Regions from separate parts of the Homo sapiens genome. Here regions 2, 3 and 4 are each linked to region 1. Evidence: fine-mapped expression QTL. A gene starts in region 1. Each other region holds a variant in brackets. All regions are shown on one strand. Distances are from middle to middle. Region 1 holds the start of KLHL22 (kelch like family member 22). Region 2 overlaps KLHL22 (kelch like family member 22). Region 3 overlaps MED15 (mediator complex subunit 15). Region 4 holds the start of LOC124905085 (a long non-coding RNA gene).

Evidence for each region.
Region 2: its variant is fine-mapped to the expression of KLHL22 in whole blood (INTERVAL, PIP 0.94).
Region 3: its variant is fine-mapped to the expression of KLHL22 in whole blood (TOPMed, PIP above 0.99).
Region 4: its variant is fine-mapped to the expression of KLHL22 in whole blood (TOPMed, PIP above 0.99).

The regions. Positions count from the first base shown.
Region 1 is chr22:20,491,092-20,499,226 of GRCh38, forward strand. KLHL22 (kelch like family member 22) reads right to left here and starts at 4,704. Exons shown (of 7, transcript NM_032775.4): 1 at 4,669-4,704. It overlaps LOC101928824 (a long non-coding RNA gene), which reads left to right and starts at 4,822. Exons shown (of 4, transcript XR_007068011.1): 1 at 4,822-5,596; 2 at 7,576-7,700. RefSeq lists a silencer at 4,364-5,023 and an enhancer at 5,218-5,870.
Region 2 is chr22:20,467,686-20,475,820 of GRCh38, forward strand. It overlaps KLHL22 (kelch like family member 22), which reads right to left. Exons shown (of 7, transcript NM_032775.4): 3 at 3,665-3,830. It overlaps LOC124905085 (a long non-coding RNA gene), which reads left to right. Exons shown (of 3, transcript XR_007068014.1): 2 at 5,451-5,766; 3 at 7,523-7,599. It also overlaps the pseudogene RNY1P9. Among named protein-coding and RNA genes, the nearest start is that of KLHL22, 24 kb to the right of the region's middle. The variant A/AGATG (reference allele first, on the strand shown) is at 3,101.
Region 3 is chr22:20,529,780-20,537,779 of GRCh38, forward strand. It overlaps MED15 (mediator complex subunit 15), which reads left to right. Exons shown (of 18, transcript NM_001003891.3): 2 at 7,338-7,425. Among named protein-coding and RNA genes, the nearest start is that of MED15, 26 kb to the left of the region's middle. RefSeq lists enhancers at 381-1,368, 7,777-7,946. The variant A/G (reference allele first, on the strand shown) is at 3,014.
Region 4 is chr22:20,453,023-20,461,157 of GRCh38, forward strand. It overlaps KLHL22 (kelch like family member 22), which reads right to left. Exons shown (of 7, transcript NM_032775.4): 5 at 4,786-4,978. It overlaps LOC124905085 (a long non-coding RNA gene), which reads left to right and starts at 7,953. Exons shown (of 3, transcript XR_007068014.1): 1 at 7,953-8,084. It also overlaps the pseudogene KLHL12P1. RefSeq lists enhancers at 2,324-2,493, 3,242-3,743 and a silencer at 6,708-6,906. The variant C/T (reference allele first, on the strand shown) is at 3,443.

The DNA of each region.
Region 1 (8,135 bases):
TCATGTCTACTGGTTTGTTATAAAGGGTATTGCAAAGGATACAGATGAAGAGATGCATGGGGCCAGACATGTGGGAAGTGGTGCAGAGCTTCCAGGCCCTCTCCAGGAACATCACTCTTTAGGAGCCTCCATGTGTTCAACTATCCAGAAGTTTTCCAAACCCAGTCATTCAGAATTTTTATGGAAGCTTCATTATGTAGGCATGACTGATTAAATCACTGGCCATTGGTGATGAACTTAATCTTCAGCCTGTCTCCCCTCTCCGGAGGTTGAGAGGTGAGGCTGAAAGTCCCAACCCTCTTATGCCTGCCTTGGCCTTTCCTGTCACCAGCCCCCATCCTGAAGCTACCTAGGGGCTGCTGGCCAGCATACAAAAAGGCATCACTCTGGAAAGTCCAAAGATTTTAGAAGTTGTATGCCAAGAAATGAGACAAGACCAAATATATATTTCACAATATCACAGTACTGAATACTATAGGCAACTGTAACACAATGGAATTTGTGTATCTAAACACAGACAAGGTACAGTAAAAATATGGGACCACCATCCTTCATGTGGTCTGGTCTGTCATTGACGGAAACATCACTGTGTGGCACATGATTATATATCTTTAAAAGAAAAAATGAAAAATATATGCTGATATAAAACTTGCCAAAAAGAAGAGGTCTCTCTCTTCACTACTGAGGCTCAGGGCCACCCCCAACCCCATCCCCTGGATGCTCTACTGCTTCCCATCAAACACACTCAGTTATCTGTGCCTGCCCCTGAGTCTGCCTCCAGGACCTGGGACCTCTATCCAGCCACCCACCCATTCCTTTCCCCCTCCTGGGCTGGCTCATCTTTCTCACCAAGGCCCCAGAGATGGCCACAGCCAAGGTGTATACCCCATGACCACCTCTCACTTAGGATTCTCTTGCCTGGAAACTCTGCTCTATGATAATTCTCCCTTTTCTGACCTCTCTCTTTCATCCCACACACCCTGCTCGAGCCCATCCTTCTTTCCCAGTGGTTCACATTCCCAGTTTCACCTACAGCTCAGTGCCTAATCTAGCTAGTAGCCCTCCAACTTGTCTAATTTTACTATCAAAGCTACCATTTCCATCTTGGAAACCTCACTGTTTTAATATTTTTCCTTTCTAACCCATGTGCCCTATGAACCTACTAGTTCTGATTCCTTCACCTCTCCTCCATCTCAGACAGCCACCCTCCACTCCTCCAGGGCCACCACTCTGGGTCAGACCACAGCAGTGATGCCCCTACCAGTTTCCCTACCTCTTGTCTCATCCTCCCCAGGCTGCTCTCCTTCAAGCCTTACCTACTCAGCCCCATCAGCAGTCCTTAGTCCAAAAGGGATACCTGTCATCCCCTGAACACCTTTAGTCACCCATCTAGGCCATTCTGTCTCTCATAGTCCCATATTGGTCAAGGTCTAGCTCGATTACTTCTCCCTCTATCATTGTACAGAGAACATGACAAATATGCCCCACCATTCAAACCTGCCCTTTTTTTTTTTTTTAGACGGAGTCTCGCTCTGTCACCCAGGCTAGAGTGCAGTGGTGTGATCTTGGCTCACTGCAACCTCTGCCTCTCAGGTTCAAGTGATTCTCCTGCCTCAGCCTCCCCAGTAGCTGGGATTACAGGCGTGCACCACCACACCCAGCTAATTTTCTTGCATTTTTAGCAGAAATGGGGTTTCACCATGTTGGTCAGGCTGGTCTCGCATTCCTGACCTCAGGTGATCCATCTGCCTTGACCTCCCAAAGTGCTGGGATTACAGGCATGAGCCACCGCGCCCGGCCCAAACCTGCCTATTTACCCACGACAAGGAGATTCCGGCTTCTTGAGGGGTGAGGTTTTATCTCACAAACATCTCAAAAGCCCCCATGGCTGGCTGTACCACTTGCTAATGACAGACTCTGGGCACTTGTCTCATATACCCACGCCTCAGCTTTCTCATCACCACCATGACCACCGCAGAGTCAAGAGGGCCTCCTTCTCTGAGGGTGACCTCCACAACTACCCCAATAGACATCAAGCCCCCAGGTGGATCCTCACCTTCCGTGAGCATAGTAGTGCCTCTGCTCTCTTGGGAAGGGATAAATGGCAGCTACTCCCTAAACCCATACTGCAAAAACAAGTACGGTAAAACAGAAAGACATCTTCCATGGGCAGGCAAAGCACATTTACCAAGTCCAATTTAAGAAACTTAGCTAGGGGCTAAGGGGGATATGCTGAAAAATGAATCAATTCTCTGCTGGGAAGGAGCACAGCACAGGGTGCAACATTTAAAACATTTAAAACCACATCTATACGGTTTTAAATCACCAAAACGTCCACCCTCAGGAGAACAGATGTCATGGCACAGTGATCTGACAGAACATTAGGCAACAGTCAAAATGCGCAAAGTGGCCGGGCGCAGTGGCTCACGCCTGTAATCCCAACACTTCGGGAGGCTGAGGCGGATGAATCACGAGGTCAGGAGTTCAAGACCAGCCTGGCCAACATAGTGAAACCCCATCTCTACTAAAAATACAAAAAAATTAGCCGGGCATGGTGGTAGGTGCCTATAATCCCAGCTACTTGGGAGGCTGAGGCAGGAGAATCACGCCACTGCATTCCAGCCTGCATGACAGTGCGAGACTCCGTCTCAAAAACAAAAAAACAAACAAAAAAACAATGTGCAAAGTAGGCTGGGCACAGTGGCTCATGCCTGTAATCCCAGCACTTTGGGAGGCCAACGTGGGAGGATCACCTGAGGTCAGGAGTTCAAGACCAGCCTGGCCAACATGAGGAAGCCCCATCTCTACTAAAAATACAAAAATTAGTGGGGCGTGGTGGCGCATGCCTGTTATCCCAGCTACTGGGAAGGCTGAGGAAGGGGGAAGCTGAGGCAGGAGAATCGATTGAACCCAGGAGGTGGAGGTTGCAGTGAGCCAAGATTGTGCCATTGCACTCCAGCCTGGGCGACAGAGCCAGACTTTGCCCCCCCCCCAAAAAAAAAAGTGCAAAGTAGGCTGGGCATGGTGGCTCATGCCTGTAATCCCAGTGCCTTGGGAGGTCCAGGTAGGTGGAGTTCAAGACCACCTTGGGCAATATAGCGCGACCCTTTCTCTACAAAAAATTTAAAAATTAACTAGGCATGGTGGTGTACACCTGTAGTCCTGGCTATCTGGGGTGAGACAGCTTGGGGTTCACTGCAGTCTCAAGCTCCCAGGTTCAAGTGATCCTCCCACCTCAGCTTCCTCAGAAGCTGGAACAACAGGAGCTCACCACTGCGCCCGGCTAATTTTTCAAATTTTCTTTGTAGAGAAGAGGTTTCACTATATGGTGTAGGCTAGAGTGCAGTGGTAGGGTCTTGGCTCACTGCAGCCTTCATCTCCTGGGTTCAAGCGATTCTCCTACCTCAGCCTCCCGAGTAGCTGGGATTACAAGCACGTGTCACCACACCCAGCTAATTTTTGTATTTTTAGTAGAGACGGGGTTTCACCATGTTGGCCAGGCTAGTCTCTCCTGACCTCAGGTGATCTGCCAGCCTTGGCCTCCCAAAGTGCTGGGATTACAGGCATGAGCCACCGCGCCCGCCCCCAGTCTCATATCCCCAATTTTAGTCATCACAAGCCAAGTTCCCCGTTTTGTACTGTTCGAAGTTTCAGTGGGGAGAAGAAAGGAAGCTTAATGTGCCACATAGCTACAAACTGAAGGATACAAGATGAATTTTTATGAAGTGATGGATGGCAGAGTCAAAATCATTTCAGAGGAACTTTCAGTTCGGTACGATTTTACTGAGTAGATACCCTCAGCCTTCTGTAGGGCCCCCGAACGAGCAGTATCCCCTCAAAGAAACTCAATCCTTGGCAGCATGAAGCAAGGTCGGCCACAAAGGCAAAGGGGGCGGCTGCGGTAGAGGAGAGGGAGTGGGTGCTGATTCCCAGCGGGGCAGCCTTCCAAAGGGTGCGCTCTGGAAGAATCTCCCAGGGAGCCGTCTTGGAGGCACTCGGCCCCGCGGAGGGCCGGAGCGAGGGCGCCCAGTGAGGAGCCCAGGCGGAAGGTGGCGGTGCCCCGCTGCCCGCCCCAGATCCACTCGGCTCGGCCCGCACCGGATCTAAAATGGTCAGAACTGGCAGCCGACGCTTCGCGCTCTGGTGATTTTGCACTGACAGCGCGATCTCCGGCTCCTCTCAGGAAACCGGGAGAGCTGGCAAGGCTGGGCTCCTACGGCTGCAGTCCCCGGGCCCGATCGAGGGAACTGAGGCTCGTCAGGCCGGCCCCAAATCGCCCGCCTGTTGCAAGGCCGCCCGCTCCAGCGCGGAGGGTCGCGGCCAGGAAGGCCGCATTCGGACCTGCCGCAGGCAACAGGGCCCGCCCGGGTGCCAGGAGGCCGGCGCGCCAGCAGCCGCGCTGAGGAGGCCTCGCACCCTGGCCCCTGGCCGAGCGCCAGATCCCGGCCCCTACGCGCCCGCGCCCGGGGATCCCGCCGGCCGCGTCCCCGCCACGTCAGGCCGCGGGCTCTCCTCAGGTCGCCGCCCCCGAGCCTCCGGCCCGCGCCCGCCCCCGCGCCCCTCGGACTCCGCGCCGCTAGCTTGTCCCCGGCCCAGCGATGCCTGCTTGCCGCCCGACCCCCGCGTTCGCTGCCGCCCGGCCCGTTCGGCTCACGCCTCGCAGCTGACCTGGTGCCGCCGCCAGCCGAGGCCGCACTCGCAGCTGGAGGGAGGCGGGAGGCGGGAGGCGGGAGGCGCGAGGCGGGAGGCTGGGCGAGAGGAGCCGGCGGGGCGGGGGCCTGGGCCGTCACGTGGGTGCGCCGCGCAGGCGCCGGGCGGGCCAGACGTAGGCCCGGGGGTTCCCGGCCTGGCCGGGTAGCAGCGCGGGGGCGGCCCTGGGGCGGGGAGACAGGGGGCGGCTCCACTCCGGCGCTCTGCGGAGGACAGCAGCGATCGCCAAGGCTCAGTGAGTCCCCGCACTAGCGCGGCACCTGGCACTTGGCGGGGCCGAACCAACGAATGAGCGAATTTGCCGAGAGTCGCCCCGTCTGAATCCATTGACTCTTTCCTTGCCTCGGTCCTACCCTCATTCCTCGACTCACTTCCTCCTGCCCTTCCTCACTATCTCCCTCCCCGCTCATATCCTCCCTCTCCTTTCCTCATTCCCTTCTTCACTCTCTTCTCTCCTCTCTTACTCCCCCCCTCTCATTCCCTCCCTCCTTCACTCTCTCATTCCTTCCCTTCCTATCTTACCCACCATTCCCTTCCTCCCTCACTCATTCACTCCCTCCCTGTCTCCCCCTCTCATCCCCTCCCTCTCTCATTCCCTTTCCCTCCCTCCTTAACTCTCGTTCTCTCCTCCCTCTCTCATTCCTTCCCTCCCTGTCTCATTTCCCCCCTTCTTTCCCTCCCTCCCTCTCCTCTTCTCCCATTGCCTCCCTCCCTCTTTGATTCCCTTCTTTCCTCCTCTCCTCCACTTGTTCCCTTCGTCACGCGCTCATTCCCTCCCTCCCGCGGCCTGCTCCTTCCCCGCTCCCTCCGCGGTCGGTGCCGCTGACCGTAGCGCGCCCCCTGCGGGATATCGGGGAGAATCGCTTAACACCGCCAGAGTGAACAGGTGCTAGTTTGTGTGCCCGTTCCTTTACTGAGATTTTGCAGTAAATCTAATTCCCAGTCTTAAAGCCTGGTCCCAGAGGTCCGTGCGCGGGTCTTGGCATTCATTGTTCTCCACCTCACCTTCGAGCAGGTCCCATCCTCCGAGGCGTATCCGTAATGGCTGCGCCCAGAGCTTGGAGCCACAGAGCCTCCTGATGGGATAAGGTTGGAGTGTCCCACACTGTGGTTTTGAGAGGGACTGTGAAGGGTGGAGAGAGTGGTAGGGGGAGGATGTGGCTGGAGATGGCTCATGGTTAAAAAGAAAGGTGGGGCCGGGCTTGGTGGCTGGCGCCTGTAATCCCAACACTTTGGGAGGCCGAGACGGGCGGATCACGAGGTCAGGAGATGGAAACCATCCTGGCCAACATGGTGAAACCCCATCTCTACCAAAACACACACAAAAAAACTAGCCGGTCGTGGTGGCGCGCACCTGTAGTCCCAGCTACTCGGGAGCCTGAGGCAGGAGAATCGCTTGAACCCGGGAGGCAGAGGTTGCAGTGAGCCGAGATCACGCGCCACTGCACTCCAGCCTGGTGACAGAGCGAGACTCCGTCTCAAAAAAAAAAAAAAAAAAAAAAAAAAAAATTGGTGGAAGGGGAATGTAAAAGGAGGAAAATACACGGAAGAGAATTGCTGTCCTGGCTGAGTCCAGAGAGATAACTGAGGGTCCCAGACAAGGATCAAGAGAACGGGATTGGCCTCCAGAGGCAGAGGTTCCAAATGGGAGTGGGCTTCCTCCTAGAAAGACTTTCTGGAGGAGACCCCCCTACTGTGTAACAGAGGAGGACTTTGGGATTAAGAAAAGCATTCCAGGAAGCCGACAGTGTCAGCAAACGTGGAGGTGAGATCCTTCAAAGTGAGTGGTGTGGAGGTTTCCAGAATTTTCTGAGCCTGAAGGGAAGGTTGGAGAGCAGACCCTGCCCTTTGGAGGCTTGACTTAGCCCTGAGGGCACCCTGTAGCCAGGGTGGGCAGATGCCAATATGGTAGAGACGAAGACTGAGTAGGGAGCCAGCCACAGTGCTGTGGTCTCAGGCAGGGAGTGAAGACCAGAGTGGAGCAGGCTAGAAACCTGGGAAGGAAGCAGGTTCCCCAGTATAAGCCCAGTGATGTGTGAAGAATGAGCCCAGGAGATGGGTGGGGAAGTAGGCCCACCCTGCCTACAGGGGAGCCAGAGCAAGAGCAGGTCTGGGGGAAGATGAGGCCCCCCTTGGCTCCAGGTAGGGGAAGACTGACCTCCAAGGCCCAATGGGACCAGGTGTACGGGTGGACCCAGAGAGGAGAGGAAAAGGAATCCTGGGGCAGCAACAAGAAGGCCACTGTGGTCTGAATGTCGGTACCCCCAAAATTCATATGTTGGAACTGAATCCTCAGTGCGATACTATTATAAAGTAGGGCCTTTGGGAGGGGTTTAGGTCATGAGGGTGAAGTCCTCACCATGGGATCAGTGTATAAAAGAGGTTCGAAGGAGCTCATCCCCCACTTTTGCCAGGTGAGGACACTGTAATAAGCACCATCTTCAAGGCAGAGAATCGGCTGGGCGCAGTGGCTCACGCCTGTAATCCCAGCACTTTGGGAAGCCGAGGTGGGAGGATCATGAGGTCAGGAGATCAAGACCATCCTGGCTAACATGGTGAAACCCCATCTCTACTAAAAATACAAAAAATTAGCCAGGCATGGTGGTGGGCGCCTGTAGTCCCAGCTACTTGGGAGGCTGAGGCAGGAGAATGGCGTGAACCCGGGAGGCAGAGCTTGCAGTGAGCTGAGATCGCGCCACTGCACTCCAGCCTGGGTGACAGAGCAAGACTCCGTCTCAAAAAAAAAAAGCAGAGAACGGACCCCTCACTAGACACTGGGGCTTTTTTCTGAAGGCTACTGTGTCATATAAAATTTATATTAAATAAATTGATATGCTTTTCTCTTGTTAATCTGTCCTTTGTTAGAGGGGTGTCAACCAGGAACCTTGTGATGCGTGAGGAAAAAATATTACCTTTTCCCCCTACTCTTTCTGGCACCCAACAAACAAGTGGGGTGGCAAAGACACCCCACTTGGGACAACTGGCAAAAGGTAAGCATTCTTACCAAGGTTAACTGTCCCATATCACTGCCTGTAGTACTCAGCTGAGAGTGGAAGGTAAAAACTTCTTGTCCCTTCCTTTCCAAATTCAAATTAGCAGAAGAAAACATTGTGTCTGGATTGTGACTCTTGCTTAAATTTGGTTGAGGGGTAACTGTTTGTTATTGATCCTTTCCTCCCAGGCACAGCTACCTCTTTCCTGTTTGTTTTATTTGTGTCCTGAGAGCTTGGCTTTATGACCAGTGAGAATATTCTCCCTGATCTCTGAATAGCCAGTGGGTGCAAGTGACAGCTTGCTTTAGGACAGCTTGCGTTAGGGTTGCAAGTAACAGCTTGCATTATTACAAACTCCTCTGTCCCGGTCAGAAAAAGAGAAAGTTTGGTTTTTGTTTGTTTGTTTGTTTTTTGTTTTGTTTTAATAGTCTT
Region 2 (8,135 bases), 23 kb before region 1:
TCTCACTCTGTTGCCCAGGCTGGAGTGCAGTGGCACGATCTCGGCTCACTGCAAGCTCCGCCTCCCGGGTTCACGCCATTCTCCCACCTCAGCCTCCCAAGTAGCTGGGACAACAGACGCCCGCCACCACGCCCGGCTAATTTTTTGTATTTTTAGTAGAGACGGGGTTTCATCGTGTTAGCCAGGATGGTCTCGATCTCCTGACCTCGTGATCTGCCCGCCTAGGCCTCCCAAAGTGCTGGGATTACAGGCGTGAGCCACGGCGCCCGGCCAAGGTATTTAAAGCTTATCAATAAACACTAACTATAACTTTTTTAAAATTCAAAAGACATCTAATATTGCTTGCAAGGTGACATGCTAAGAGCTGGATGAGACCTACCAAATGTCAGGCAGGTATGTGCCCTACATGAGGTATCCCCATGGTGCTTTGCTAGGCCCTGACCAGCTTCACTTGACCTTCTTTTTTCCCTTTTTGCCAGTCTTCTGCTTTGCCACTTCTTCCCAAACTACTAGGTTTTCCTAAAATTCTGGTTTGTCATGGGCCAGGGTCCTGAAGACCAAGTTTTGGGCAGAATGTGAGCACAAACAGCCCTGAAGAAGCCTGGGCAGCAGCAGCTCCTTGAGAGGACCCTGCTGACTCTCCTTTCAGTCCTATTTTTAGAGCAGTGGGCCTTCTGTTCAGTGAAATCTCACAGAGGAACCAGCCTGGGCTCAGGATGTGCAAAAGCCCCATACGAGGCTCACAGAAGGGACTGCATTTGCTTGGGGTAACCCAATAGGACAGTGTTACTGGGAATCAGACTCAGGCCTCTGGGGACACCGTGAAGAATCTGGTCCCAGGCCTACTGCAGGGCACAACACATGGGGGAAGCCTCCAAAAGTCACTAGCTATGTGAACATACATGATTCTACAGGCCTATGGACTTGACATGGTTATGCCAAGTAAAACCTGCTATAAAACAATATTGTGAAGAAGCCTGTTTTTTTTTGTTTGTTTGTTTTTTGTTTTGAGATAAGCTGGCATGTAGTGGTGTGGTGATCACAGCTTACTGAAGCCTCCACCTCCTGGGCTCAAGTGATTCTCCCACCTCAGCCTCCCGAGTAGCTGGAACTACAGGTGCATGCCACCATGCCCGGCTATTTTTAAAGTGCTTCTGTAGAGGTCTCGCTTTGTTGCCCAGGCTGATCTCAAACTCCTGGCCTCAAGCAATCCTCTCACCTTGGCCTCCAAAAGTGCTGGGATTACAGGCATGAACCTCCAAGCCTGGCCCAGAAGCCTGATATGTTAAAAAACTAAGATAGGCTGCTGCCTCTGAGATGACCTCTGAGGCACTGGGGGAGATGACCCAGGGCTGTCGGGAGCACTGGCCAAACCAACAGAGAGAGACTGCAGGCCTCCAAGCTGACTGGTGAGAGAGGGAAAGTGATGTTAGAAAGATGATCTGGTTTCAGTGTGTGTGATCACTGCAGGGAGAAGAAAGAAATGGCAGAAACATACAGATGGAGGCCAGGCAAAAGGGAAGGAAATGGAAACACAGAACAGAGATGGCTACAAGCAATACCGAGAAGGATGACCTGTCCTCACATGGACGCAGGGAATTAAGAAGGTGGACGGGCTCAAGGAGCCACTGAGGTTGAGCCCAGGGAACTGGCAGGATGGTCACAGGACACACAGAGCAGGGGGACTGACAGGGGAGCTCCGGGAGAGTGGCAGGTGTGGAGGAGGAGATAGGACAGCTGGACCTGAGCCATGCTGGGGGAGATGTTTCAGAGGCAGCTGAATCAGGAGTTAACTGCTGCCAGGGTGGAGAATTGGATGAGGGTTCCCAAAGCAACAATGACAGGGATGTGGGGACAGAAGAGATCTCTAAATAAAAGAACAGGGGGAAATTCTTTTGTTGTAAAAGCCAACTCCATCTACTCACCATGCAGGTATGGTGAGACAAGTCAGTCATCTCAGATCAACCCACCCAGCATCCAGGTCCTATCCACCAATCTGAGAACAGGGCACAGGGAGGCTGCCAGGGCCCTGTCACATGGGGTGGCACCTCCACATGCCCCCGAACAGGTTGGTTTTCCTGTGACTTGAGTTGTTTTTTTTTAATTGCGTCAAACCTGCTCTCATGGGAAGAAAGGTCAGAATGATGAACTTAGCATAGCATTTTGTTTCACTTTTAAGAAATGTGGGAAGAGGTGACTGTCAACTCCTATCAGGCCTCTGCCTGATAGCTCAAAGGCACCTGCAGGCCCAGTCCCGTGTAACTGCACCCACACCACTGAGAATAATCATCCAAAACATAAGTCACACTGTCAAAGCCTCAGAAAACTTTTTGAATTCTGCAGGAAAACAAGTACTTAAAGTTCAATAACAGGTTGGGTACAGAGGCTCACACCTGTAATCCCAGAACTTTGGGAAGCCAAGGTGGGAGTATCACCTGAGGCCAGGAGCTTGAGACCAGCCTGGGCAACATAACAAGGCCCCATTCCTATAAAAAAATATATATATATATAATATCAGCTAGGCACAATGGCACGCATCTTTAGTCCCAGCTACTCAGAAGGCTGAGGCGGGAGGACCACTTGAGCCTAGGAGGTGGAGGCTACAGTGAACTATGATCATGCCATTGCATTACAGCCTGGGTAACAGAGTGAGACCCTGTCTTTAAAAAAAAAAAAAAAATAGGCCAGGCGCAGTGGCTCACACCTGTAATCGCAACACTTTGGAAGGCTGAGGTGGATCACTTGAGGCCAGGGGTTCAAGACTAGCCTAAGCAACAAAGCAAGCCTCTATCTCTATAAAAATAATTTAAAAATTAGCCAGGTGTAGTGGCACATGCCTATAGGTCCTAGCTATTTGGGAGGCTGAGGCAGAAGGATTGCTGGAGCCCAGGAGGTTGAGGCTGCAGTGAGCTGTGATCGTGCCACTGCACTCCAGCCTGGGCAAGAGAGAGAGAGCTTGTCTCCAATAAATTGAATGAGTGGATGGATGGATGGGTGGATGGATGGATGGATGGATGGATGGATGGATGCATGCATGGATGGATGGATGGATGGATGGATGCCTGCCACCATGGATGGATGCATGCATGGATGGATGGAT[A/AGATG]GATGGATGGATGGATGGATGGATGGATGGATGGATGGATGGATGCATGCATGCATGGATGGATGGATGGATGCGTGCATGCATGGATGGATGGATGGATGGACAGACAAATAGATAGATAAAGTTCAGTAACAAAACACATAAGTTTTCAAGAGACTGAAGTGGCCCAGTGAGGGGACAGGCAGGAAGGGCCCTGGCAGCAATGCTGGTGGATGCTCCCCATTGCCAGACCCCAGAGCACACAGGACGTCCACATGCAGCCTCGGGTCAGCCTACCTGCTTATGTGCAGGATGCTTTCAATGACAGGGAGACTCAGACAGTGGGGAAACAACCAGCAATAGAGAAGAGGGCAAAGGCAGAGGCCTGGGGTGTCTAGAGCGGCTCTGCTTGAGCTCCAGGAACAACTCCAGAGTCTTCCCCACTTCATGGCCTTCGTCACTGCTTGGTCTCCTCACATTCCTGACCCATCTTCAAGCCAATGCTAGTGCCCGGCAGGCATCATGGGCATCTCAGGGAACCCCACCTGGGTGTGGGTCTGCCTTGCTAGATGAGACATGCCTCACCTGAAGCTGGCAGGCAGCCACCAGTGTCTCTTGTACATTGCTCAGGCTGAGCTCCAGCTCGGAGGTGTATATGAAATGTAGGATTTGGCACATAGCATTGTAGGACACACCGTGGATCAGGACCTCTTCCTGTTCCATCTCCTTCAATCCCCCAGCAAACATTCCTCTGCAAAGTGAAGACACAAGAAAATGGAGTTATACCAACAGGGACTTAAGCCCATGTTGCCAAGAGTGACAGCATTCAGAGAAGAACCTGGCGCTGGTGGCAGGGCCCTGGTAGTGGGCTGACCCACTCTGTGCTCTGAGTGAACTGTGTGCATGCATGAGCCATCCCACAAAAGGATCCTGACGAAGTCTGGGCAGCCATCCTGGAAATTGTCCTGTTTCCCTTTTCATGGGCCCAAGGAGTCCCATGTGAGCTTCGGGAGGTGAGGCCACAAGCAGCTTGCTTCTGCTGTGTTCATCAGTGCAGTTCCTGGATCGGAGCAGTAGCAACTCCAGAGCACATTTCAAAGCAATGAATTAATTAATGGGAAACTAATAAAAGTCATTTCATTCAATGTATATTTATGGAGTTCCTACCAAATGCCAAGTATCATTCAAAGAGCAGAAGGAGGCCAGGCACGGTGACTCACACCTGTAATCCCAGCACTTTGGGAGGCCAAGGCAGGCAAATCACTTCAGGTCAGGAATTCGAGACCAGCCTGGCCCACATGGTGAAACCGCGTCTCTACTAAAAATACAAATATTAGCCGGGCATGATGTTGTGCATCTGTAGTCCCAGCTACTTTGGTGGCTGCGGCACAAGAATTGATTGAACCTGGGAGACGGAGGGTGCCATGAGCCAAGATTGCACCACTGCACTCCAGCCTGGGCAACAAAGCAAGACTGTCTCAAAAAGCAAAACAAAACAAAAAACAAAGAGCAAAAGGAGTTATAGTGAAGTAAACTGGTAAAATAGCTGGGCGCGGTGGCTCACGCCTCTAATCCCAACCCTCTGGGAGGCCAAGGCAGGCAGATCCCTTGAGCCTAGGAGTTCAAGACCAGCCTAGGCAACACGGTGAAATCCTGTCTCTACAAAAATTACAAAAATTGGCCGGGCGTGGTGGCTCACGCCTATAATCTCAGCACTTTGGGAGGGCAAGGCGGGCAGATCACCTGAGGTCAGGAGTTCAAGACCAGCCTGGCCAACATGGTGAAACCCCGTCTCTACTAAAAATACAAAAATTAGCTGGGTGTGGTGGCGGGCGCCTATCATCCCAGCTACTCAGGAGGCTGAGGCAGGAGAATCGCTTGAACCCGGGAGGCGGAGGTTGCAGTGAGCCGAGATCACACCACTGCGATCCAGCCTGGGTGACACAGCAAGACTCTGTCTCAAAAAACATATATACATATATAAATAAATGCTAAGAAGGAACCCAGCAGGGCATCTGACCTGAGAGTCACTGGTTAGAAGAGGGGTAGGTGGAATGATGAGAAGGAGCAGGGAAAGCCCCATCTGAGGAACTGAGACCTAAGGATAAGGCTGAGAGGGTGTAGGCAGCCGGGGAGGGAGTTCCAGGTGAAGGAGACAGGTGTACAAGTTCTGGGGCAAGGCAGAGCTTGGCATGCAAGGCAGCCAAGATGATGACGAAGTGAGCAGAAAGTGGGATGGGCAGGCAGGCCTTGGAGCCAGGTCCCCCTACCTCTAGGGTAGGTACAGTCCAGATTGAAATCTGAGCATTATGGGATGCTCTTGAGGAATTTACCCACAGAGTGATGTGAACTGACTGGCTTTCCGACTCAGGTGCTGGAGGAGGAGCCCCTGGAAGACCAATTAGGCCTGAGATTCCTGTGGGCCTGGAGGCCAAGGGTGACCCTGGCCCTGGGGAGGGCATTGCAGCTAGAAAGCAGTAGCTGAGACTACCCTGGGACACGGCACAGAGAACCTACTGACAGACTGAATCTAGGAGGACCTGGGAGGACTCAAGGCCCTCTGCTGGGCCGAAGAGGACCCTTTACTGATGGAAGAAAATCTGGACAGCTGGGAGTCCCGTGATTGTGTGATCAGTGTGAGATACCTGTGAAACCTCCAAGTGTAGACACTGATTAGGTGTTTGGAGGTAAGAGGCTGGCAACTGGGGCTGAAGTTTAAATATGACAGCAACATGAAGATTATAAGAGAAGCTATTTTTACATTTTATTTATTTTTTTGACTAGGTAATACATATACATGCTACCAGATTTAAAATACAGTATAGGTTAGGCCGGGCACAGTGGCTCACGCCTGTAATCCCAGGACTTTGGGAGGCCGAGGCAGGCCGATCATCTGAGGTTGGGAGTTCGACACCAGCCTGACCAACATGGAGAAACCCCATCTCTACCAAAAATACAAAATTAGCTGGTCATGGTGGCACATGCCTGTAATCCCAGCTACTCAGGAGGCTGAGGCAGGAGAATTGCTTGAACCCAAGAGGCGGAGGTTGCAGTGGGCCAAGATCGTGCCATTGCACTCCAGCCTGGGCAACAAGAGTGAAACTCTGTCACACACACAAAAAAAATACAGTATAGGTTGTGGTGAAAGTCCCCTTGCCTCTGCTCCCAGACCATCAGTCAGTTCCCCTCCCAGGGCCACACTATCCTCAGGGCAGTCATATTCCACATCTCACTTGGCTTTTTTCTTTTTTTTGAGACGAAGTCTCACTCTGTTGCCTGGGCTGGAGTGCAGTGGTGCGATCTTGGCTCAGTGCAACCTCCGCCTCCTGAGTTCAACTGATTCTCCTGCCTTGGCCTCCCAAGTAGCTGGGACTACAGGTGCCCCCCACCACGCCCAGCTAATTTTTTGTATTTTTAGTAGAGACCGGGTTTCACCGTGTTAGCCAGAATGGTCTTGATCTCCTGACCTCGTGATCTGCCTGCCTCGGCCTCCCAAAGGGCTGGGATTACAGGCGTGAGCCACTGCACCCAGCCCGGTTTTTACTTAACAATATAGCTTGGAGACTGATCCATGCCCATGTACGCAAGACTGCCTCACTCTTTGCAAAGGCTGTCTCACTTTTTTTATTTTATTTTATTTTTTTAAGATGGAGTTTCGCTCTTGTCGCCCAGGCTGGAGAGCAATGGTGCAATCTCGGCTCACTGCAACCTCCGCCTCCCGGGTTCAAGCAATTCTCCAAACTCAGCCTCCCGGGTAGCTGGGATTACAGTCCTGCGCCACCATGCCCGGCTAATTTTTGTATTTTTAGTAGAGATGGGGTTTCACCACGTTGGCCAGGCTGGTCTCAAACTCCTGACCTCAGGTGATCCACCCGCCTCAGCCTCCCACAGTGCTGGGATTACAGGCATGAGCCACCGCGCCCAGCCAGCTGTCTCACTTCTTTAACCCATTTCTACAGGGGTATATTTAGGTTACTTGTAATTTCCAGTTATTTCACATGATGAACATCCTCACCCTTACAACATGCTGAGTATGCATATGCCAGGATTAAGTCCCACAAATACAGTTGCTGGGTCGAAGGGTTTACATACATTTATACTTTGATAGTATTGTCAAGTTGCTGTTTTTATATCATTCCTGATAGCAGGGCCTGGTGCCTGCACCCTCTACCCCCAACCCAGGAAGACACCAGCTCTAACTCACCACCACAAAAGGGAAAAACCTTATCACATAAGGTACAGAAAATCTCCTTATATGTTAAAGAGCCATTTCCATTTTCTTTTCTGAACAGTTCAGATTCTTAGTCAGTTTTCTGTTAGACTGTCTTATCAATTTGAAGAAATCTGCCCTTTCTTTGATGAGGAGTTTCCCCGATCTTTTGATTTTGTATTGCTTTTTTGCCATGCAGAAATTTGTCTTTTTTTTTTTTTTTTTTAAACAAGTCTAGTCAACTGCAGTAGTGAGAAGGTGAAAAAGTAGAACCTGGAGTTGGATCTGTGACTGTGAACAATCAACTGAGGTAACTCACACTACCTTCGGACCAACCTATCTTCGTTTTCAATGTTGTCAAATTTACCATTTACTTGCCTCTGAGTTTTGTGTCAAACTTAGAAAGGCTTTTTCTTTCTGAGATTATTCAGAAAACATTTCCGATATTTTCCTCTAGTGTTTTTATTATTGAATCTTTCACATTTAAAACTGTTGATCCACCTGTAATTTATTTTGGTATAAGGTATGAAGCAAGGGTCCAACTTTGTTTTTCTAGATGGCAACTCTGTCGTCTTCCCTCCTTCCTCTAATTTTTTTTTTTTTTTAAGACGAAGTCTCACTCTGTTGCCCAAGCTGGAGTGCAGCAGCGCGATCTCGGCTCACCACAACCTCCACTTCCCGGGTTCAGGAGATTCTCCTGCCTCCCAGCCTCCCGAGTGGCTGGGATTACAGGCATGTACCACCACACCCGGCTAATTTTGTATTTTCAGTAGAGATGGGGTTATCACTATGTTGGCCAGGCTGGTCTTGAACTCCTGACCTTGTAATCCGCCTGCCTTGGGCTCC
Region 3 (8,000 bases), 39 kb after region 1:
TGGGGTTTCACCATGTTGGCCAGTCTGGTCTCGAACTCCGGACCTCAGGTGATCCACCTGCCTTGGCCTCCCAAAGTGCTGGGATTACAGGCGTGAGCCACTGTGCTCAGCTAATTTTTGTATTTTTAGTAGAGACGTTTCACCATGTTGGCCAGGCTGGTCTCGAACTCCTGACCTCAAGTGATCCACCTACCTCCGCCTCCCAGAGTGCTGGGATTACAGGCGTGAACCACCACACCTAGTCCAAATCTTTTTTTTAATATGGGAAAATCTTTTTTCCTTTATAGTGTCTGCTTCTGGTGACATGCTTAGGAAACCATCATCCTGATATTGTATAACTCTCCTTCTGTTGTCTTGTGGTCCTCTGTGATTTAGGTTTTTAAACACATAGGGTAAAGGGTCCCACATACAAGCTGTGGGCTCCTGTCCCAGGTGGGCAAGCAGGCTGCACACACAGGCAGCAATTTACTGGGAGGCTTCTTGGGTGGGGTGAAGTGGAGCTGCCAAAAATTTATTCTGCCCTATGAGAGTTCACTTGATTGATAGATGTTGTGTTTCTCAAAATTAGAAAATTAGAAGAAACTCACAGAAGTTTCCTTCGAGCAGAACATAAATCGGCTGAGAGGAATCATCCTGCCCCCCTGAGGTCAGGAGGGTGAATCTGTGCCCCAGGGAGGAACGCACCTTCCTGCTTTAGACACCAGCAGAGGACAGAGAAGCTGGCTGTCCTGGGAATTCATGCCCTCATTCAGCAATGGGAAAGCAGTTGGACCAGGGAAGGGGGCCTGGCAGTGTGGCAGGGGGAGCAGTGGTAAAGAGGGTGGGGTCAGGGGAGAGGCCTCACTGAGAGGGGAGAGGGTCCTTGGTGGGAACCAGGGCGGTTGTGGAAGGAAGAGTCAGGGCGTGGAGCAGAGCAGAGCGGGAGTTGGGGTGGGGAGGCCAGTTCATGCCTCATCAACATGCCTGTGTGAGTGTCCTTCTTGCGGGCGGTGGAGCTGGCCTCAGGGTACACTGCAGGTGACTCAGAGCTCCAATGGGAGGGTGGCTCTGCCTGAGGGAGCTGCACATGCTCATTGGGCCATCGTCTGCTGAGGAGGGGGCAACAATAACCTCAACACATGGCGGAGGTGTTTTGGGATGCATCCTATTGCACATTTGGGCAGGTTGTTGCCTGACTTATTTCTTTAACGCATACCTAGCACTTCCTGTATGTCCAGTGCCTTATAATATTAACTACTATCATCCTCAGGGCTACCCGTGAGGTCGGCACTGTCCCCACCCTTTGTGCAAAGGAAGGATAGGGAGGCGCTGCCAGATGGGTTGAGGGCAGACCGGGGCAGCTTGCCTCAGGCCTCCCTGGCCTTAGCAGGCTTTAAGTTTGATGCCCTGTGCTCCTTCCCTAGGAAGCTCAGTTTGCCAGTTTTTTGCTTTATCTTAGTCTCATTCAGATTACAAGGACTGGGACTGGACTCCTGTTGCCAGTTTCTCAATTTGGAATAGGAAGGAGGTGAGGAACAACAGGCCCATGCTGGGCAGAAGCCCTGCAGACCAGGCCAACAGTGGGCCTCTCCTCACTGCCTGGCCCTGTCTGTGCACCTTCGTCCTGGCCACAGCCTCTCAGAGCCCCTCCTTTATGAAGAGGTTACGCTTTAGGGGAGGGAGTGCCTCTCCCAAGACCCAGAGCTGGTGAGTGGCTAGGTTGGAATTTGAGCCCAGGTCCCTCCTCCCCTGTCTGCTTCCTGCCAGGCCCAGCTGCCTGCCCCAGCACACGCCTTCTCCCAGGCACCCTGGCCTCCACTGCCAGGACGTGCCTGTTTGAGGCCTGGATTCCCCCATGGCTGCCACGCTGATTCTCCGTTCTGCACGTCGTGTCCCATCAAAATGCATGACAGTACCACTCCTTGTGTTAAAAAGAGCCAGTTATTGTGCCTGGCAGTGATGACTGCCCACTGCACACAAAAGTGGACGCCGTTGTCTCTGCTCTCAGGGTGTTCTTAGTATAGTGGGGCTGGCACACAGAAACCAGAGATTCCTCCAGGAAGTGCCACAGACATGGGTGAGGTGGCTACAGGGTTTCTGTGCAGCCGACAGCAGGGGTGCCTGGGTGGAAGCAGGGTGGGAGGCCCTAACAGGCCTGATGGGATAGTCAGGCAATGTGCCAGGTAGTAGGTCATCATCCCTGGGGCCCTGGGGAGAGTGTGTGGGGCAGGCGCAGGAGCAGGCTCCTCAGTGGGCTCCTGGACAGGCTGCCTGCTCTGCTGGTGAGGAGCGAGGCTCAAAGCAAGCAGGGGCCTGGGTTGCTTCCCACACTCAGTGGCAGTTGCTCACTGGCAGTCATGTGACCTGGGGAGCTGGCGAGGGCGTGGGGGTAGGAATGGGAACGGGAGACAGAGGCCCTTTGGGAGGAATTGCCACAGATGCAGTGGGAGTTGGGGCAAAGATTTGAACTTTGGAGAATTAAAGGTGGCAGTCAGAAAGTGAAGGGAGTTCCCAAGTTTCTGGGATGGGCACTTGGTGCTGGGAGATGAAGACACGAAGAGCTTTTCTTGATGTATCCCTGCTGGCTGCTCAGGCAGGGTCGGGCAATGCCATTAAGACACACTGTGTTCTGGGAACAGTTCTGGACAGTAAGGACATCCTCAGACCCCTTAGTGGGGGAGCTCCAAGGGCCTGTAATGATGAATCGGTCCCCTGGGAGGCTTCAGTCTAAGCTAGATACCAGTTGAACCCTGACTGAGTACACAGACATAGCTATGGCAACCAGCTAGACCATGGCCAAAGGCAGAGCATTGGAGCCCAGTTCACAGCAAGGGACTGTGTGCTCTGAGCCGGTAACAGTCCTTGTGTTCAGAGGTCTGGCTGGTCGCAACCAGGGAGTGGCCCCCAGCCCCCTTCCTCAGCTAGAGCGAGCACCACCCAGGCAGCCTTGGGTTCTTTGGTGGCCGCCTCATAGGCCTGTACTGTTTGTGAACCTGTTGCTTATGTTGGACAGGACTGTGGCAGGACAGCCATC[A/G]AGGGTCTTCCCTTGTGAGCTGACACCAGTCTGCTCTTTGTCCTCCTCTGGCTGGACAGGCCCTCGTCTTCCCGGCTTGCTTGTGTGGGGGAAGAGCTCACTGTGACATGTGGGTTCTCTGTTCTTTGTCTCAGGCTGTGCTCCTTACTCCATGTTGGGGGCTGTCTCCTTGTGTGATAGTTTCCTTTCATTTCGTGACAGTGGCTCGAAGGGTTTTGTTTTCAGGAGACAGAGACTGAGGAGTAGCCATTCGGGTCTGGCTGCTCAGGAAGGCATGCTGGGGATGGCAGCAGAGCCCAGCTCAGGGAGATCAGAAGGGGGCTTTGGGAGCAGCCAGTGCTGTTCTGAAGGTGGGCCTGGGTCCTGCCTGCAGCCTCCCGCAGCGGGTGTGTTAGGTCTAAGGGAGGAAGGAAGGGGACTTGACCTCAGCAGGAGTGTGAAATGGGTACCCTCCTGGAGTCAATGTCCAGGCAGGGGATGCCTCTGAAAAGCGCCAGGCCAGCTGGAGAGGAAAGGGCAGGCATCTGCAGGGAAGTGTGGGGGATTAGCTGCAGAGTTCCTGGGTTCTTTTTCGCTTTGTCTCTATTTTGTGACACTTGATCTTCAAACTAGAAACAGGAGCAAAGACATTTTCAAAAATACAGTTGTCAGAACTGCAAAACCACACAGGGTCTGTTACTGGCCACCAAACCTGCTGGGCCTCCCTGGGTGGATGCTGTGGGAGAGATGTGGGAGTGACATGGCACAGTGCTGCTGTTCTGAGCGGTAGCCTTGCTGGAGGAGCGCCTTGCCGGAGGAGCACCTTGCTCCTTGGCCCCACTCTGACCCTCCGAAGCTCATGTGGAACTGGACATTTACCCCAACTCGGTTTCCTGGTGTTGGCCTGTCAAGACTTGCCTGTTTCTGGCCTCCAGCTTGGTCCATGCTCCTCAGGCTCTGAGTAGCTGACGGTGCCCACAGTGTCCATGTCATCTGTGACATTACCCAGGACAGGACAGGGCCCGTCTGCCAGTACATCCCCTGGTGTATGGTGCCACCTTGCCTTCAGCTCACCAAGCATATTTCTTCAACCTGGTCATCCCACCACCTCAGAGCTATTGCACTAAGCTGTGTTTCTAGATCTTGTCTCTCTGACTGTGCCAGGTGTCTCTGCTGCACCAAGACAGTGTCTGTCTGGGGCCTGCCAGTCTGCTGACACTCTCAAAAACGGCCAGTAGCAGCTCAAAAGGACTGCTTTTGTATCAAAGCCTGGCTTTGCTCTCTGATCGCTGCTGGTGGGCACAGAGCCCATCTGTGTAACTGGTTGTCACTCCCCAGACTCTTCTGCACCCTTCTTCCTCTCTGACTCCTGGCCACATCTGCCACCCACAGCCTCCCCACTCCTTACACAGCCAGCCTCCAGGCCGTCCTGCTTGGCCTGCAAATGCTCCCCTGCTGTTTCTACTGCTCTTCCCTGAGTCTCCCTATTGGTCCCAGTGCTTTGGGAGGCCAAGGTGGAGGATCACTTAAGGCCAGGAGTTTGAGACCAGCCTGGGCAACAAAGCAAGACCCTGTCTCTACAAAAAAAGTAAAAAATAAAAAAATTAGCCAGGCGTGGTGGCGCATGCCTGTAGTCCCAGCTATTTGGGAGGCTGAGGTGAGAGGATACTTGAGCCCAGGAGTTTGAAGCTGCAGTGAGCTGTGTTTGCCCCACTGCGCTGCACCTGTGAGAGAGTGAGACATTGTCTCAAAAAACAAAAGAAGAAAAAGAAAAAAGGAAGGTGGGAAGAACAAGTATGCCTTTGAAGGGCATACCTGCCTTGAGGGGCACAGATGAGGCAACCTTCAGAAAACAGGCCTGTGCAGCCACTTCTATCAGAAATGCTCACTGACTTCTTGGGGCCTAGCAGCTATCGTCTCAGCCTCTGGGTGTGGAGACCCTGCCCCATGCTAACCTGAGAGCATGAGTACAGGGTCCTCCCAGCCCACCCATGCCTCGCTTCCCCAGGACTCTGACCCAGTGCCGCGCGTGAGTTGGTTGTCATTATCCTCCTGGATTGTTAACTCTCTCATCTTTTGTGGCCCTGGTGACCTTTCTTACTTGTCTGTTCCACACCTGGATGCCTTGTGAGCAGAAACCCCTTGCTGCCTCCTCGCCTCCCTTCAGGCTTCAGGAAGCAGACAGGGAGGTAGGAACTCCAAGAGTGCAGGAGTCTCATTCTGTCGCCCAGGCTGGAGTGCAGTAGTGCCATCTTGGCTCACTGCAACCTCTGCCTCCAGGGTTCAAGCGATTCTCCTGCCTCAGCCTCCCGAGTAGCTGGGACCACAGGTGCCTGCCACCACACCCGACTAATTTTTGTATTTTTAGTGGAGACAGGGTTTCACCACGTTAGCCAGGCTGGTCTCAAACTCCTGACCTCAGGTGATCCACCTGCCTCGGCCTCCCAAAGTGCTGGGATTACAGACCTGAGCCATCGTGCCCAGCCCAAGAGTGCTTTTTGAATCTAGCAGGGTGGTAGGTCAATGTCATTTTGTTTTTCTTTTTACATTAAGACAGATGTATGCACCTCTCAGCATTAAACCTCCTTTCTGTGATGTCTTTAAGAATCACAGTCATATTGCTGTAGCCCCGTCTGTACATTCCTTCAGTTTCCTGAGGTTGGCTGGTTGCTGTTTGGAGTGGTCAGAATGCTTTCTAGCACGAGCTGGACTGGGCCTATTCAATTCACTCAGAGGCAAGGCCCCAGAGCCCTGACATGTTTGCTTGTTTCTTTTTTCTTTTGCTTTCTTTCTTTTTTTTTTTTTTGAGACGGAGTCTCGCACTGTTGCCCAGGCTGAAGTGCAGTGGCGCAATCTCCGCTCACTGCCAGCTCCGCCTCCCGGGTTCATGCCATTCTCCTGCCTCAGCCTCCCGAGTAGCTGGGACTACAGGCGCCTGCCACCATGCCCAGCTAATTTTTTGTATTTTTAGTAGAGACAGGGTTTCACTGTGTTAGCCAGGATGGTCGTGCTCGCCTGACCTCGTGATCTGCCCGCCTTGGCCTCCCAAAGTGCTGGGACTACAGGCGTGAGCCACCGTGCTCAGCCTGCTTCTTTCTTTCTTTTTTTTTTTTTTTTTTTTTTTGAGATGGAGTTTCGCTCTGTCACCCAGGCTGGAGTGCAGTGGCGCAATCTCGGCTCACTGCAACCTCCACCTCCCGGTTCAAGCGATTCTCCTGCCTCAGCCTCCTTTGTAGCTGAGATTACAGGCATGCGCAACCACACCCTGCTAATTTTGTATTTTTAGTAGAGACAGGGTTTCACCATGTTGGTCAGGTTGGTCTTGAACTCCTGACCTCAGATGATCCACCCGCCTCGGCCTCCCAAAGTGTTGGGATTACAGGCGTGTGGCACTGCACCTGGCCACTTGTTTCTTTATCAGCAAGCCCAGGGTGGGAGGCCAGGCAAGGAAGAGACCCATCCCACTGGCAAGAAGGCAGGCAGTGAGCACACCAGAGCAGTCCACCCCTGGGAGCCACAGGCCAGGCCTTTCTAACAGATTCACACTTGTTTTTGTCTTTCTGTGTGTGAGTGTGGGAGGTGGGGGTGGGGGTGGGTGGGGCAGCATGTGCTGCATTCGAGGGGTCTCCACCTTAACTGATGTACATGGCTCTTTATCCCCGTGGAGCAGCAGTGTGATGAAAAACTCTTCATAGGATTCTATCTCTTAGTACAAAATTGTTGGTAAATGGGTTTTTAAAGATATTTTTCACATTTATGTGGTCTTTCTCTTCTTGTCTCTAGCTAGAAGTGAAGTTGGAGCTTGTCTCTTTGATCCCACATATAGGACCTGCATTGTCCCACATAGGGACAGACCCTTGCCTTGGGAGGGACTGAGAGATGACTTCATGTGGCCCCTTCATTTTATAGGAGTAATCGAGTCTAGAACCAGGGTGCTACCATCTGGCAGAGTTCATGGGGAACGCAGGCCACTCAGAGAGCAGGAAATAGAGGCCAGCTGGCCACCCAGTAGTCTAATGCGTACTTCCTTGATCCTGAACTGGTTGTGAGCCATCCCTAGGGGCAACCCCTCCCCCGCCCCGTCCCTTCATGCCAGGGCTCTCTCTTTGCTTCATGGCGACCACCTTTCCTGTCCCTTTTTTCTGATCACCCTGCTCAGTGGCCTGTCATTGCTCTCTGTTGAGTGCCCCTTCCCATATGCCTCTCCTGGACCTCAGCCAGGCTGGTGTGCTGGCGATAGCACCTTGTCACCAGGGGCAGCTGCTATGCAGGGCCTGTTGGCCAGGGCCCTGCAGCGGTGGAGTCACTGGTGTGTGCAAACGTCTCTTCTCCTTTTGTGTTTCAGCGAGGATGCCATGAGGAAAGCTGGTGTGGCACACAGTAAATCCAGCAAGGATATGGAGAGCCATGTTTTCCTGAAGGCCAAGACCCGGGTAAGGCCCTAGTAAGTGGAGCCACTCTGGCAGAGAGACTTGGAGAGGAGAGCATCACAGACTCTGGAACCCCTCTGTTGGGTGTCCTAGGGTGTAGGGGTGGGGTGGTTGCTCATCGATTGATCACAGGCACAGTTGGTTTTGCCTGCAGCAGTCTGGGTCCTCCTGTGTGTCCATGGTACAGGGAGGGCACTTGGGTTGCAGGCCCAGCCTCTGGCCCCAGACCTCACTGCCGTCACCTTCCATCTGTGGTCAGCCCCTGTGAATCCTACAGGAAGCTTGCTCAGGCCCCTAGCTGGTCCTGTGGAAGGGATCAATGCCGTGAGCAAGAACCTGGTTTGTCCTCAGCCCCTCCTAGGGGTCCTTACCTAAGCCCTACAGGGCCCTGAGGCATGGGCCCAGAAGCATTCCTGTCCCCTTTTGCTAAGTGAAGAAGGTGATGCTTATCTAGAACTCGCCACAGGTGGAGTGGAGAAGAAGGATTTCCACTATATGTGGGCTTTCTCCCTGGGTGGGGCACCACACTGAGGGCTTTATGTGACCACCTCCTTTAATCTGTGTGTGCTCCCTGGGAC
Region 4 (8,135 bases), 38 kb before region 1:
AGCTATCAACATTTCTGAGCTATCATTCAATGTTCCTCTGTGTCATGGAGTGAAATTCTTGTTTTATGGGTATTGGGAGTGTGGGAATGTGATAACCTAAACAACCTTTGCTCTGAAATTCCATTTTTCCCTCTTTCCCTGAAGTGTACTGACCTGTACTACAGAGTTAATTTCTTTTGTATTTTTTTAAGAAAATATTAAAAATCAATGGTCTCAAAAAAAAAAGATTTTCTTCTTCTTTTTTTCTAGAAGTTTTATGGTTTTACATTTAACTCCATAAACCATTTTGAATTCATTTTGGTATATGGTATGAGACTTGGGTTGATATCCATTTTTTTGCCGACGCATGTCTAATTGCTCCAGTACTATTTGCTGAAAGATATCTTTCCTCCACTCAATTGTTTCTGCACCTTTGTCCAAAATCATGTGTAACATGACTGGGCATATTTACTCAGGTCTGTGGGTTTTCCATTCTGTTTCACTGATCTATGTGTCTATCACTGTATCCATACCACAGCCTTGATTACTGTAGCTATGTAGTAATCTTGAAATTGGGCAGACTCCTCCCATCTTATCGTTCTTTTTCAAAATTATTTGAGCTATTCTAGTTCCTTTGCCTTTATATATACATTTCAGAATAATCTCATTTACATCTAATGTCACAAGTAAAATCAAATCAAAATTAAAAAATTTATTTTATTTATTTTGAAATTTATTTTATTATTATTTTTTGAGACAGTCTCACTCTGTCGCCCAGGCTGGAGTGCAGTGGCGCAATCTCGGCTCATTGCAACCTCTGCCTCCTGGGTTCAATCCATTCTTGTGCCTCAGCCTCCCCAGTAGCTGGGATTACAGGTGTGTGCCACCACACCCAGCTAATATTTGTATTTTTAGTAGAGATGGGGTTTCACCATGTTGGCCAGGCTGGTCTTGAACTCCTGACCTCAAGCGATACACCATCCTCGGCCTCCCAAAGTGCTGGGATTACAGACGTGAGCCACTGCGACCAGCAATAAAAAAAAATTTTAGGCTGGATGTGATGGCTCACTTCTCTAATCCCTGCACTTTGGCCGAGGCAGACAGATCCCTTGAGACCAGGGGTTCAAGAACAGCCTGGGCAATATGGTGAAACCTTCATGATACTAAAAATATAAATATTAGCTGGGCATGGTGGTGCTCACCTGTAATCCCAGCTACTTGGGAGGCTGAGGCAGGAGGATCACTTGAACCAGGGAGGCAGAGGTTGCAGTGAGCCGGGGTCATGCCACTGCACTCCAGCCTGGGTGACAGAGCGAGACTCTGTCTCAAAAAAAATAAAAATAAAAAAATTTTTAAAAAGCTTATTGTGCATGTAAAAGAAGAGTTCATGAACCAGGAAACCCCAAACTGGAAGTGGTATGAAGCCCCAATTCACAGCAGTTACAACACAGTTTATAAAGCATGAATGAGGAAGAATATTGTTCCCTACTGTGCATGTGGAGCTGCATAAGCTTTCTTTGTAAAGCTATCACACTGAGGGAGGAAAGCTTAAGTTTCAGTTACATGGCTACAGGCAGTTGGCCTAGGGGTATATCCAAACCTCAGCTTCAATTTTCATTTTCCCTTAATAGTACAAAAAACCTTCCTGAAATTTTGATAGGAATACTAGTATTCCTGTATTAATACTATATCAATATGAGGAATTCTGTATTAATATATGTATTATTAATTGGGTTGGGAAAGAACTGACATTCTTACTATTCTTACTCTTCCAATCCATGGACTTGGTATGTCTCTCCATCTATTCACATCTTCTTTTATTTCTTTCATCGGCTTTTTGTAATATTCAGTGTACCAATCCTGTGAGGTTTTTTGTTTGTTTGTTTTGAGACGGAGTCTTGGCAGAGTCTTGCTCTGTTGCCCAGGCTGGAATGCAGTGGTGTGATCTCAGCTCACTACAACCTCTGCCTCCCGGGTTCACGCCATTCTCCTGCCTCAGCCTCCTGAGTAGCTGGGACTATAGGCGCCTGCCACCATGCTCAGCTAATTTTTGTATTTTTAGTAGAGATGGGGTTTTACCATGTTGGCCAGGCTGGTCTTGAACTCCTGACCTCAGGTGATCCCCCCCGCCTGGGCCTCCCAAAGTGCTGGGATTACAGACGTGAGCCACCGCGCCCTGCCAACATGACCTATCCTTTTTCATTCCCCAACATCTGATCCATCAGCAAGCCTGATCAGTTTACCTCCACGCTACACTCTGAACCCTCCCATCTCCCTCCAGCTCCACAGCTGTGTGCCAGCACAGGCTACTGCTGTCTTCAGCCCAGACCACGCAATGACCCAGGGCCAGCCTCGCTTGCTCTGCTCTTGATCCTTGGGCTTCCTTCTTCTACAAGCATGCCCCATGCTTCCTCTCCTGCTCAGGAAAAGCTGTGAGCCCCTCTCCTGCCCTGGAAGGTCCTTCTGCTAGACTAGGCAGATGGTTAGATATGAGCAGGGAAGTGGACTCCAGGTTGGCCTCAGCCCCTAGCATGGCCAGAGGGACTATGACCTCTGAGACATGTTAACCACACCTGGGGTTTCAAAAGTCCCAACCCCTCTTTCAGTTAAGCTTATCCAGCTCAAGTAGGAACTAACCCCACAAGGAACTTTCCACCCCCGGGAGCCTGTGTTGTATAGTTTGCCCCAGTTTTGCTTGCTTCGAAAGTAACCTTTTGTTCACTGCAGTGGTAAAAAACACACCTCCTGGGTGAAGATTTAAGATGCTAATGAGACATGCGATAAATACACTAGCACGTAGAGCCACAGTGCATGCGCTGCTAGAAGACCACCCAAACAAAACATGCTTATGAGTAACACCTCTTCCCGCCCATTTATGAATAATCATGTAAGCCTCCTGTAAGGGAGGTTTCCCATGCCAGTTGGGGCGATCTTATTCTGGAGCAGCCTGCTCTGACTCGGCCTTCAGAATGTACCTTCACTTTTGCAATAAACTGCCTTACACTTATCTTCGTTAATGCATGTCTCTTGCTTAAAGTCTTAACCAAGAAGACAAGAACCGAGGACACATTCCCAGTAACATTTCCTCCCTCTGTAAATGGCAGGTCTAATTGACATCTCCTCAGATGGACATTCCCCAAAAAGTCCCTCTAGATTCATCCTACCAGAGCCCCCTCCCTGGAAATCCTCCAGTTCAGCCCCCTCTTCATTTCACTTACCATAATTGTAACCACTTTACTGATCTGTTTTCTGGTTAAGAGTGGTTTCTCCTACAAGGCTGTAAACACCATGGAGTGGGGAGTCTTTCTCATTTCTTGTCACCACTGGATTCCCAGGACTTGGTACATGGTGCTTAGTAGTTGCGGAATGAATGCGTGCATGAAGGAACACCGGCAGCCACGATGCAGCTGGTTGAAAGCCAAGGCTGCCCCTCTGTGGCCAAGCTGGAGAACTGCTGCTTCCC[C/T]AGCTGCCGCAGACAAAGAAACTGCTAAGCCCCTCCCACAACACCCACCTAGGAGGCTTCCCCCAACACCCTTCCTGGAACAGAACCCAAGAGCCCTCCTTGTCCACTTGGTCTCAAGGACCTCCTGATCTTCTCCATGCAAAATCTGCTCCTTTCCCCAGGATGGGGGTACGGAGTGTCCTTCCAAAGAGGCTTCCTTCTCCCCAAAGAAGCTGAGAGCAAGGAGCAGGCCACAGCTTGCAGCTCACAGCTGCCCAAGAGACAGAAATCTGTGTGGGCTGTGTGAATGACCTGGATAAAGAAGAGCTGGATCCATTGAGGAGACACTAGCCCTGACCCCTGAAGTCAAAGTCTAAGTCCCTGGGGGAATTGGGGGTCATGAGAGATACTGGAAAGAGGCTTACAAAGGCCAGAGCTCTTGCTAAACTCCCTGAGGCAGTGCAGGTAGAACCTGCCCCCCATACCATCCTCTGCCTCTCAGGTGCTCGGTTATCCCCAAAGGTGTACCTGGCCCATAGCAGGTGCTCCACAAATGCTATGCCAGTACTAGCGGGGTGCCCTGCTAGGGTACCCCTAGTACTGCTAGGGTATGCCCTGTTCTCGGAGGCTGAGACCCAGGAAGTAGGGGGCCAGCAAGGCCTGTTCCTTCCCTGGGATCCCATGTCTGGTTGTTACACCAGGCCTGAGTACCCCAAAGTCGTAAGATAAAAGAGAGGCACCTCCCTAAAACATCATTTTTCCATAATGAACATAATTTTAAACATCTTCAAATTGGAATAAACCAAGGTATTATATAGGATGCACGTGATTTTTTTTTCAAGTTGTCCCAATATTCAAACATAGGATTTAATATAAAAAATAAAACCTTAGAGTGTTTCTTGGCTCTGGAAGGCGCCACCCTTCAGGGGACCTAGAGGGAAGAGGTCTGAGGATAGGCCAGTGAGCTCTCAGGGTCCCTTCCTGTTTAACATCTCTGGAAGTGTCCCAGCTCGTCTCAGCTGCACAAAGAGCAAATGTTCTATCCACATTTGAACTACAAGGTTTAAGCAGCTTGCCAGGGCCAAGGTGGTGTGACAAGGTCTCAGCATGTAAGACTCACAAGTGGGGCACAATTCTGAGCAATGGGGTCTGGATCCTTGATGAGCCTCCCCAGGTGGACTGGCTGAACCTCATGGGGCCTCATCAATGCATTCAATGCAGGGTCTCTGGAGAAGCATGGATTCTGCTCACTGAGCCTGTTTCTCTGACCTGGGACAGGCCTTGACACCTAGGCCTCTCACTCTTTGCACATCCTGGGGAAGGAAATTAGGCAGGAGAAGGCCCCTCTTCGAGGGCTTCCTTACCTCCCTCTTGAGTGGGGCCACGTATGCCCAGGAGTTGGTGGCAGGGTCGTAGCGCTCCACAGCATTCAGGTCATTGTGGTAGTCACGGCCCGCCACAGCGTAGATGTACCTGCCTACAACACACACGGACAGGTCGGCGTGCTCCTGCTGCAGGGACTGGATCTGGAACCAGCGGTTGTGCCGTGGGTCATACCTGTGCCGAGACATGAGGAAAGCACAGCACTGACTAGGCAGGGAGGCTGCTCCGCAGGCTTGCACCTCTTGTTCTGGTCCCATTTCTGCTTTGCCTCAGCCCAGCCTGAACCCTCCCCAACTACCCCACATACCAGTGCACACCGATCTACAGCCAGGCCCACAGGCTGTTACACACCTGAGCACAGGTGCTCCCCACCACACAGCATGGAAGGAATGGCCAGGAGCCTCCTGTGTTTCCACCTAACTGTCCACCTGGGCTGTCCAATGGCTCTTTTTTTTTTTTTTTTTTTTTTTTTGTGGAGAGAGGTCTCTCTGTCCCCTAGGCTGAAGTGCAGTGGCACAATCATGGCTCACTGTAGCCTCGACCTCCTGGGCTTAAGTGATCCTACCACCTCAGTCTCCTAAGTAGCTGGGACTACAGGTGCGCACCACAACGCCCGCTATTTTTTTTTTTTTTTTTTTTTTTGATAGAGACAAGGTCTTGACACCTGGGATATGGACTTAGGCAATCCTCCTGCCTCAGCCTCAATGGCTGTTCGTACAGCCACTTCCATCTCACTTACCTCATCTCATCATCCACATAGCCTTGCTCCCACTCAGGAGGGCCTCCAAATACAGCCTCTCCACTGGATGGGTGCCATCAGCCCCCTCATTGGCCTCCAAGCCTTGAACTTCCCCCAGCACTCCATCAGGAGTGGTCTTCTCAGGCACGCCCTGCACACAGCACCCATCATACCCTCAGCTTTGTCAACAGCCGCACACACAAGGCTCTGGTCATCGTACTTTCACCTCCTCCCACCATGCTGCCAGCCCCGCGTTTCCTGACCTCCCCTCCACTCAAGGTCTCCCTCTCTGGGAAAGTGGAAAGGGTTAACTCCCACCCTGGACTGCAGGCTCTGTAAGGGCAGGGTGTGTGAGATTCCAGGGACCCCCATGGGAGAAAAGGCACTAGACTGGTTGCGGCAGGCCCACGAGGGTGGAGGAGTCTGGCCAGGACCCAAGGAGGGCTCCTGGGCTGAGCACCAACAGGGAGCATGGCCTGCAATGTGGAGCAGAGATGATCACAGAGCCATGAGGGGCCAGGACCCAGTGAGCTCAAAGCCAGTATCTGAAGTGTCCTTGCCCAACAGCCCACAGATAGTTACAGCCTCTTTCAGACAAGTGTTTTTATTTCTGCAGAGGAAGACCTATTCCAAAGAGAACAAGTCTAACTTCAACTGGCTCACAAGAGAGTAACCAAAGTTTTCTTTGGCCTGTGCCCTATGCTGGTTAGTGAAAAGATCAGTTTCATCCTTTGCTTCCTGCAGCCCCTGCAGTGTGGCCAGCCCCTCCCCGCCGCCTACCAGGAATGCAGCAAACAGGAGCCTCAGAAGGCAGGGCCAACAAGAGAGGGAACACACACCTGGGTCTCCCTGACCTGGTGTGAATCCTGGGCTCTTCCCTGTCTAGCTGGGTGTGCCTGGGCATCAGTTTTAATCTCTTGGGATTCGCTCAGTTCTGCACCTGTCCAATGAGGTGATATCACCTGCCTAGAAAAGCTATCAAGAAGAATCATAAAAGACGAGCATGAAAAGTGTCCTTGTTAACTTGGGGGTTCTGATGGATCATGGTTCATTTCTATATTCCTAGACCTCAGTGTAGCCTCTGGCTCAGGACAGATTATGTTCTGTCTGCTGAATGAATTAAACAAAGGAGTAAGATTACCAGCAATGAATCATTCATTCACTCTACCAACATTCCCAGGTCTCCCACTGTGGATGGGGCACAGTGCTCAGCACTACATCCAGAGGGAGCCTCAAGAGGTCAGGGCCCTGCCTTCCCCTGCAGAATGGAAACAGGCTAACCAGAGCAAATGAGTGCTTAATATAATGACAGACACTGTGAAAGAAAGAAAGGGAGGTAAGAAGATGAGTGACCTGCTGGTCAGCGGGGCCTGGGGAGGGCAGAGCTCCCTTGCAGTGATCAGGAAAGGCCTCCTGAGAAGGCAGGGTCTGAGACCTGCATGACCTGGGGCACAAGCCAGAAGAAGGTCTGGCAGGGGACCAGCAGTCCAGGATTGGGGCACAGCACTCACAGGGGCCCCGTCAACTGGCTGGGATGGTGCTGTTCACTGCCTTTCCTGTGCGCCTTCCTCCTTTATATACAAGTCTCTCCTCTCTTGTGTTCAGTCTGGCTCAATCACCATCTGCACCCCAAGTGTCTGCAACCAGAGTGAGATAGGACCCTCCATGTGCTCCTGTTTGCTCCTTCGAGTCTATTGTCCTCACAGCTTTTTAAGCTGAGTTCATGTGGATTTGTGGCTTCAAATTTAAAGACACACACAGGGCCGGGCGTGGTGGCTCACGCCTGTAATCCCAGAACTTTGGGAGGCTGAGGCGGGTGGATCACGAGGTCAGGAGTTCAAGACCAGACTGTCCAATATGGTGAAACCCCGTCTCCACTAAAAATATAAAAAAATTAGCCAGGCATGGTGGTGTGTGGCTGTAGTTCCAGCTACTCGGGAGGCTGAGGCAGGAGAATCACTTGAACCCGGGAGGCAGAAGTTGCAGTGAGCTGAGATCATGCCATTGCACTCCAGCCTGGGCGACAGAGTGAAACTCCATCCCCCAAAAAAAAAAAAAAAAAAAAAAAAAAAAAAAAAAAAAGACACCAACAGTGATACCATATGTCAATAATTTAGACATAGCCAAAGTTACACTGATTTCTTATTTCCCTGTTGTGTCCTGTATCCCTCTTCTTCTTTATTGAATTAATTTTCTACTTTATGAGAATAAGTCCTCAAGTAATATTTTTCTAATAAAAATAAGCTTTATTTTTGCATATAAAGATATAAACAATTTTACTTATTGCTATGGACTAGATGTTTGGATTCCCCCAAAACCCCTATGTTGAAGGCCTAACCCCCATTGTGATGGTAGTGGGAGGCATGGCCTTTGGGAGGTGATCAGGTCATGAGGGTGGAGCCCCATGATGGGCTTAGTGCCCGAGGCTACAGCTCTTTCTCTCCACCATGTGAGAACACAGACGGAAAGGACCTTACCGGGACTAAACTGGCCAATACCATGATCTTGGACTTCCCAGTATCCAGACAGTGAGAAATAGAGGTATGTTGTTTAAGTCACTCCATCTATAGTATTTGTTATAGCAGCTGAAAC